2 separate regions of the Homo sapiens genome follow, and region 1 is linked to region 2. Evidence: fine-mapped expression QTL. A gene starts in region 2. The other region holds a variant in brackets. All regions are shown on one strand. Distances are from middle to middle. Region 1 overlaps GALM (galactose mutarotase). Region 2 holds the start of GALM (galactose mutarotase).

Region 1 (4,387 bases), 42 kb after region 2:
CAGTGGCGCAACCTCCCCCTCCGGGTTCAGTGGTCCAACTTCCCGCTCTGGGTTCAAGCTATTCTCCCACCTCAGCCTCCCGAGTAGCAGGGATTACAGGCGTGCACCACCACATCAGGCTGATTTTTTTTTGAGACAAAGTCTCACTCTGTTGCCCAAGCTGGAGTGCAGTGACACGATTTTGGCTCACTGCAACCTCCGCCTCCCAGGTTCAAGCGATTCTCCTGCTTTACCTCCCAAGTAGCTGGGATTACACGTGCCCGCCACCCTGCCCAGCTAATTTTTGTATTTTTAGGAGAGACGAGGTTTCACGATGTTGGCCAGGCTGGTCTTGAACTCCTGACCTCGTGATCCACCCACCTCTGCCTCCCAAAGTGCTGGGATTACAGGCGTGAGCCACCACACCCAGCTGGAATTTTAACTTTAGATCATGGAGGGCTTTCAAGCATTCTAAGCTGGGAACTGACCTGTCAAGATTGGCATTTTAGAAATCTCACCCCAGGTTGGGCGTGGTGGCTCACACCTGTAATCCCAGCACTTTGGGAGGTCGAGGCAGGTGGATTGCTTGAGCCCAGGAGTTCGAGACCAGCCTGGGCAACATATCGAGACCCCATCTCTACAAAAAAAAAAAAAAAAAAATTAGCCAGGTGCGGTGGCCCACACCTGTAGTCTCAGCTACTCGGGAGGCTGAGGCTCAAGGATTCCTTGAGCCAGGGAGGTGGAGTTTGCAGTGAATTGTGATCCAGCCTGGGTGACAGAGGGAGATTCTGTTTCAGAAACAAAGAAATATCACCCCAGCAACTGTTCTGGTGGGACTTGACTGGAGACAGAGACCAGTTTAGATGCTGTTGTTGGAGCTGGGCACAATGGTGTGTACCTGTAGTCCCAGCTACTCAGGAGGCAGAGGCAGGAGGAACACTTGAATCTAGGAGTTCAAATCCAGTCTCGGCAACATAGTGAGACTCCATCTCTTTAAAAAAAAAAGGGGGGCGGGGGGGTCGCTATTTTAATAGTCCAAGCAAGAGATGAGACCCAAATTAAGGGTCAGGTGGAAGAAGGCAGTTTAATCATATTTAGGAGGTAAAACTCAGGAGGCCTGAATTGAATGCATAGATGAGGAAGCAGGAAGGCTGTGTGATGACCCCGGGACTCTAGAGCAGCTGCTGGGCAGTAGAGATGGGGATGTTCAGTGAGTTGTGAGTAGGGGAGGAGGGGGAGCTGGCATGGGGGGCTGGGAGAACTATGGATTTGATCTTGAAATATTTGAGGTTAGGGTGCCTGTGGGGTGTACATCTCCCCTGTACACCTGACCTTACACTTCCAGCAGCTGGATGCATGAGTGTGACGTTAGAGAAATGACAGCTGGAGGCATACATCAGCGTGTACTTTGTAGATTAAGCCACGTGGATTTACCAGAGAGGAATCATAGACTGAGGAGAGCAGTGGTCTGAGGACCAAACCCTGGGAAACTCTAGGAAACAACCACCAATATTTAAGGTCCAAAAAGGGTCTACCTTAAAGTGCCAAGGGAGATGGCCAGGGGTAGAAGGCAAAGAAGGAGAAGAGGTGTCTAGAAGTCTTGGAGTGACCAACAGTGTCAATACTCCAGGGAGTCAAGTGGCAGGAGACCTGGGAACCTGCATGGCTGTGGTGGTTGTTGTCCTGACCCCGTTTAAGAATGTAACAGAGTGGTCAGGGCAGAAGCCAGACTGTAACCGTTTGAGAAGTGACAAAAAGTGAGGAAAGATTCAGGAATATAGGCCAATAACTGGTTCCCAACTAGGCAGCTTTCTTGAATACAGAACCCTGCCAGGCACAGTGCCTCACGCCTATAATCCCAGTCCTTTGGGTAGCTGAGTCGGAAGGATCACTTGAGGCCAGGAGTTCAGGACACAGCAAGACCCCATCTCTACAAAAAAAATATAAAAATTAGCAGCCGGGTGTGCTGGCTCATGCCTATAATCCCAGCACTCTGGGAGGCCGAGGTGGGTGGATCACTTGAGGTCAGGAGTTCAAGACCAGCCTGGCCAAAATGGTGAAACCCTGTCTCTACTAAAAATAAAAAATTAGCGAGGCGTGGTAGCACACACCTGTAATCCAAGCTGCTCGGTAGGCTAAGGCAGGAGAATCACCTGAAGCTGGGAGACGGAGGTTGCAGTGAGCCGAGGTCATGCCATTGCACTCCAGCATGGGCAACAGAGTGAGAAACTGTAT[C/CA]AAAATTAAAATAAAATAAAATAAAATAAAATAAAATAAAATAAAAAAGCCTGGCATGGTGGCTTGCACCTGTAGTACCAGTTGCTTGGGAGACCGAGGCAAGAGTATCTCTTGAGCCCAGAGAGCTAGGGGCTACAGTGAGCTGTGATCACGCCACTGCACTCCAGCTGGGTGACAGAGCAAGACCCTGTCTCTAAAAAAATAAAAATAATAAAAATAAATAAAAAAGAATCCTGGGCCCCACCTCAGAGATTCTGATTCATTTGCTTTAGCACAGGGCCATGGAATCTGTCCCAGCATCCTAGAAGCTACCTCAGTGAGTTAACAGAAAGGACTGGTATTGAAAGTGCTGTCGCCTGGGCACAGTGGCTCAAGCCTGTAATCCCAGCACTTTGGGAGGCCGAGGCGGGCGGATCATGAGGTCAGGAGAGCGAGACCATCCCAGCTAACATGGTGAAACCCCACCTCTACTAAAAATATGAAAAATTAGCCAGGTATGGTGGCGGGCGCCTGTAGTCCCAGCTACTCAGGAAGAATGGCATGAACCCGGGTAGGCGGAGCTGGCAGTGAGCAAGATCATGCCATTGCACTCCAGCCTGGGTGATAGAGCGAGACTCTGTCTCAAGAAAAAAAAAAAAAAAAAAGAAAGTGCTGTCAACAAGCTGTGACAAAGAGAAGGCTCCTCTGTGAGGCAGGGAAGTGGGGTCAAATAACAGTTTTTTTTGTTTGTTTGTTTGTTTTTTGAAGGAGAGGAGCTGATTTAGGACAAGTAAAATGGTTGTCAGAGAGCAGAGGAATCCAGGGAAGGCTTGAGACCGTGAATCTGTGGTGGCCTCTGCCGGTGCTTCTGTGGGCTTTCTCCAGCTCTCTCGGCAGGGCGGAGTCAGGAGCAGAGAAGGCAAATGGTGGGATGACCTGAAGTTGGGGTTTTATCAGAGAGGAGGAGCAGGAGGACAGGGTGTAAGGCAGATCAAGGAGTGTTACTAAGGGTCTCAGGTCCTAGACAGTGGGCCTAGACAGGTAGGCAGTGAGGGTTGTGGGGGACAGGGAAGACGCGTGGCAAGGGGCCCTGAAAACCAGGGGAATATGGCAACATCAGGGGCCTGGCAGTCCCAGGAGGGGAGCAGGTCTAGCAGGAATGCCCTTGTGCCTGTGCAGGAGAGCAGCAGGACTAGGAGGCTGCAGACAGACAGTGGGTAACTGAAAGGTGAACTTTCTACTAGACAGCAAATCCCTGGATGTCATCCTGATGGATCTAAGATGAAAAATACCCCACCATGAAAATGCCTTACGTGGTCCCAACCATGAAGCGTAAAATTGCCTTTTCACCTGAAAACGACCTGCAGCTTGGTTTAGCATTTTATGCTTCGGATGTCATCTAACATCCAGAAGCAATACCCTCCCCCGTTGCAAGTCAAGGTAAAATCAGAAAATGCTCGGTGGAAAGGAAAAAAAAAAAAAACATAAGACAAAAAGCCAGCAACAGAATAAAGCCGCAAACCCAAAGCACCAGCAGAGGAAAGGGAAAAAAACCTGCAGCATAGACAAGCTTTGATGTTGTGTGATCTGTGAAAAATGTATAGAAATGTTACCTTACCAAAAAATTCCCAAGGTGCTTTACTTGCCAACCACTGGAAGGAAGTAAAAATTCCCACCCAGGGTGTTACTTTTAATTATCATCCTCTTTATGTTGTTTCCTAAAATAACAACAGGCATTCTAGAGATGATTTACGAAGATGGCTTAATGAGGTGTCAGATGAGTACCTGTGCCCATGAGCCCCTTTACCGCAGGCCTCCTTATGCAAATTTGACTGACTCTTCTGAGCCCGACTAGATAAAGAAACAGACATAATTGGAGCAGCTGGGCTGGAAGCACAGCTGGGCTATCCTCATGGAGACCAGACTCTAGCACCACGTGCTCTTCCTGCTGCCCCAGTGTCCCTCCCAACTTTTGCTTTTCAGAGCAGCAGCCCACCTGAACCTGGGGCTTCCTCAGATGATCTCCACATCAGTGCTTGTCAGCATTCATGTGCACACAGATCACCTGTGCAACTTGTGAAAATGCAGATTCAGACTCAGTGGCTGGAGTGGAGCCTCTGGATCTATGTGTCTAACAAGCCCCTGGGTGATGCATGTGGTCATCAGATGGTCCTAGGTCCACACTTGGAGGAGC
Region 2 (4,387 bases):
TTCTGCCTCCCAAAGTGCTGGGATTACAGGCATGAGCCACCGCGCCCAGGCCTCTTTACATTTTAGGGAGACATCATGGTACATTCATTTTCTACCAAATGGAGTAAAAAGAGCTTCCGTAGAGACATTTAGCATTGGGCAGGCAAATACATTTATTTCCTTCTGTAACAGCATGTGCTTGGCAGAACACTGAGAACTGGAGGTTGAGAAAAAAAAAAGTGGTCTTCCTGCTCACTTTTCTAAGACATCCTTGCTAACACAGCATTGCCAAAGGGCTTGCGTGTGAATCACCACAAAGTTAAGTGGCTGATGAAACTGAGAGTTTATGAGAATTTCTGATGAAGCAGCACATAGGAGTGCCTGTCGGTTATTGTATGAGTGTGATGCAGTCTATAATTTGACTTGTTTGGGTCTTTTTATTATTATACGTTGAGCTTCACTGAAGCCTGTTGCAAGCTTTTTTATTTTTCCTTTGCTATCAGAATTCTTCTGCTTCATGATGGAGAATTGAGGCTTTATGGCAAGAATGCTAAATATACCTTAAATTACAGACAGAAGAAGCTGAGAGATAGTTATTATGTTTTATTAGCATCTGATTCCAGGCACATAATCCCAATTCTCATAATTTCCTAATCAAAGATGCATTTCATTTCTGCACTCACCCCAGTCTAGTTGGATACCCTCTGAAGTACCCAGGAACCAAGCCAAGAGCAGTATCAAGAAAAGATAGATGATTATGCAGATGGCTTGAGTAAAACTTGTCTTTAGGCTCCCAGCATCCTCCCACTTCCTAGGCTCAGTACTCCTCTAAAGTTGCCAGACTTAGCAAGGAAGTACATAGGTGCCTGTATGTTATCTCATTAAGGCCCTTAATAGCTTTATCTTAATCCTTCTGCCATCAGAGCCTATTTTTTTGGGGAAAAAAATTCAGATTACTCATCAAGCCTTAGAGCAATATTTCTCTAAATCTGGTCCCAGATAATCTGCAGAAGAATAACTTGGGAACATGAAAAATGCAGATTCCTGAGTTTCACCCTAGACTTCCAGAATTAGAAATTCCAGAGGTGGGGACTGGGAATATGCATTTTAAATGTCCTCAGCAAATTCTGAGACACAATCAAGCAAGACAATTATTTAATAACCTTAGTGTCTTTCCTCTCCAACTGTACATACCTGAAGACTCCATCCTACTTGTAGAAAAGGAGATAACAAAGGTTCAGTACCTGGCATTTACAAGGACCTCAATCAATACTTGTTCCCTGAATCCCTTCTTAAAGGAACTGTGGACTTCAGGAGCCAGAAGACACCAGAGGTCCCTTTCCAGTCCCTTGAAGTAAAATAAGTCTGAGGCTGTCTCTAATCACCTCCGCACACCGAGGGCCTAATCCATCTACCTGACCCTGTCTGGTCCAAGCTCCTCGAGGCTGGCACAGCTTTGGCCGTCAGGAGAGCCTTCTGGGCAGTGGCTCTAACAGAACCATGTCCAGGACTTCATCCGTGGGACAAAAAGAGTGAATCTTCAGTAAGTCTGTGTGCAGAGAAGCCTGAGATGATTTACCTCATTTCTAAGCTACTACTGTACTTTGTTGTTGTTGTTGTTGTTGTTTTGAGACGGAGTCTCGCTCTGTCACTCAGGCTGGAGTGCAGTGGCGTGATCTCGGCTCACTGCAAGCTCCGCCTCACGGGTTCACGCCATTCTCCTGCCTCAGCCTCCCGAGTAGCTGGGACTACAGGCCCCCACCACCACTCCCAGCTAATTTTTTTTTTTTTTTTTTTTTTTTTTTTTTTTTGTATTTTTAGTAGAGGCGGGGTTTCACCGTGTTAGCCAGGAAGGTCTCAATCTCCTGACCTCGTGATCCGCCTGCCTCGGTCTCCCAAAGTGCTGGGATTACAGGCGTGAGCCACCGAGCCGGCCAACTACTGCTGTACTTCTTACCCCCTGTATCAAAGAGTTAAAATCTAATTTTTTCCCAAGATCGGTCTCACTGTAAGTCTGCTATCTGTATTTTCCCATTCTTCGTCTGATAGCCACCGACATTAATGACCAGCTCATTACATGTTGAGGTGTGGGGAGATGGGGGTAGAACCCCGTCAACCCAGGATTCGAGTTTAGAAAGACTACAAGCCCCAAAATGCAATTTCACCTCCCAAAAACTACCATTCCCAACATGCAATGCAACCAGGACGAGCCAAGGAAAAAAAGTACAAGTGTGGCTGCAAAGTTTGCCCCTCTTGTTACCCTCAGGCAAATGATTGATTTAGAAAGGCCCCAGGGGCTATTTTTTGCAGGAACGGTCACTCCCTAAATCCAGGCAGGGAAAGGGAGGAGTCTGAGCCGAGTCACGCCCCTTCTCCTGTAAACTTGGGTCGCCTCTAGCTTAGCGAGCGCTGGAGTTTGAAGAGCGGGCAGTGGCTGCACACGCCAAACTTTCCCTATGGCTTCGGTGACCAGGGCCGTGTTTGGAGAGCTGCCCTCGGGAGGAGGGACAGTGGAGAAGTTCCAGCTGCAGTCAGACCTCTTGAGAGTGGACATCATCTCCTGGGGCTGCACGATCACAGCCCTAGAGGTCAAAGACAGGCAGGGGAGAGCCTCGGACGTGGTGCTTGGCTTCGCCGAGTTGGAAGGTGGGTTGAACTGTGCCCTGGGCTGCGAGCAGGCCCCAGGCCCACGCTACATACCTCCCGGATCTAGCGGGCCACTTGCAATGCGAGGGACCAAGGGGGAAAGTCGCCTAGCTTGGGACCGTCTGACTTGCAAGCGCATGCATCATAGAGGGCCGTGTGGCCATCCAGCATTTGGGAAAAACTGTAATAAATAAACTATGGCAGTTGGCCTCTGGTTATCCGTTCAGGCTTTGCCCCAGTTAACGTAAAAGGTCAGCTGATGGTATGATACACTTCAGCGATCCTGGAGCGATCTTTGAACTGCCTAATCTTTGAACTGCCTGATACCTGGAGAAGGCTGGAGAGGAAAGAGCAGGCAAGAGGGGGTGTGGCTCCCACTTCTTCCCTTCTGAAGAAGGAAATTCAAATACTTGCCTCTTCTACTTCCTTCTTCCTTGATCAGATTCTCTTTGAGGCCTGGTTGTCTCAGAAATGCTCCACTAAGCTCAGTGGTTGCCTAGTACACCAGCTACCCAATAACCATTTAGGAACAAAATAGAGAAGACCAACTCAGTGTCTTCTCAGAGATCAGGTCTCCTACCAACTAGGATGGACTTTTATCCCAGAATCCATGGGCAATTAGGATCAGGCATTAATTAATACATTTGACAACTCTATTAATCCGATGACCTCATTAAACAGGACAGACAAGGTCCCCACTCTTGCGGTTTGGCTGGGGAGATAGACTTTAACTCAGTAATTGCATAAATAAAGAATGACAATTGCAGCTTGATTGCAGCAAAGGAAAATGTACATCATGCTCTCTTAGCACCATGGTGTAACTAGACAGAAAATGAGGTGTGAAATAAAGCTGGCAAAGGGAAACTGAGAGTTAATACTCTCTGCTCAGTGGTTGGGGCGTAGACAAATTCTGCTGGAGAGGAGGTTTGAGGTTTTCCTTTTGGTGTGTCATTCTGTCTGTTTGGTTCTTCCGATACGTAAGATATGTAACTTGGCTCATGGTTACATGTTGGCCAGACCAGCCTGGCCAGCATGGTGAAACCCTGTCTCTACTAAAAATACAAAAAAATTAGCTGAGCATGGTGGCACGTGCCTGTAATCCCAGCTAGTCAGGAGGCTGAGGCAGGAGAATAGCTTGAACCCAGGAGGCGGAGGTTGCAGTGAGCCAAGATTGCGCCACTGCACTCCAGCGTGGGTGGCAGAGCGAAACTCTATCTTAAAAAACAGAGAGCAAATTTCAATTCCTCAGGGAAAAAAACAAAACTCAGCTTTCTGTTGAACACCACCATGCCCGGCTAATTTTTTTGTGTTTTTGGTAGAGATGGGGTTTCACCATGTTGGCCAGGCTGCTGGCGGGCACCTGTAATCCCAGCTACTTGGGAGGCTGAGGCAGGAGAATCACTTGAATCTGGGAGGCGGAAGTTGCAGTGAGCCGAGATTGCGCCACTGCACTCCAGCCTGGGCGACAGAGTGAGACCCCATCTCAAAAAAATAAAAATATACTCTAACCTTTCCCTCTGCCTTTCTGTGTAACAGCTGACCATAAAGAAATTAAGACCCTCATTCCAGAGGGGTCCTGCCCCATACCCGGAGGAAGAAATGCTGCATGGGGAGGCCAAGAAAAATCTGAACACAGGCCTTGCCGAGTTTCCCCACTCACTCTATTAGCAACAGATCTTACCCTTTTGGTCCAATCATATTTCTACATGGCTGTCCATGTTCCATTGGACCTAAGCATAGAAATGGATTGTTTTCCTTGTAT

The links. PIP is the estimated chance that this variant, and not a neighbour inherited with it, causes the effect. A credible set is the group of variants that fine-mapping cannot tell apart.
Region 1: its variant is the best candidate, but not a certain one, in a credible set for the expression of GALM in whole blood (INTERVAL, PIP 0.89).

The regions. Positions count from the first base shown.
Region 1 is chr2:38,705,892-38,710,278 of GRCh38, forward strand. All of the region lies in intron 4 of GALM (galactose mutarotase), which reads left to right. The region is part of intron 1 of LOC124905993 (a long non-coding RNA gene); the gene reads right to left. Among named protein-coding and RNA genes, the nearest start is that of GALM, 42 kb to the left of the region's middle. RefSeq lists a silencer at 3,923-4,123. The variant C/CA (reference allele first, on the strand shown) is at 2,215.
Region 2 is chr2:38,663,727-38,668,113 of GRCh38, forward strand. It overlaps GALM (galactose mutarotase), which reads left to right and starts at 2,388. Exons shown (of 7, transcript NM_138801.3): 1 at 2,388-2,625. The coding sequence starts at 2,436. RefSeq lists enhancers at 2,140-2,652, 2,653-3,165.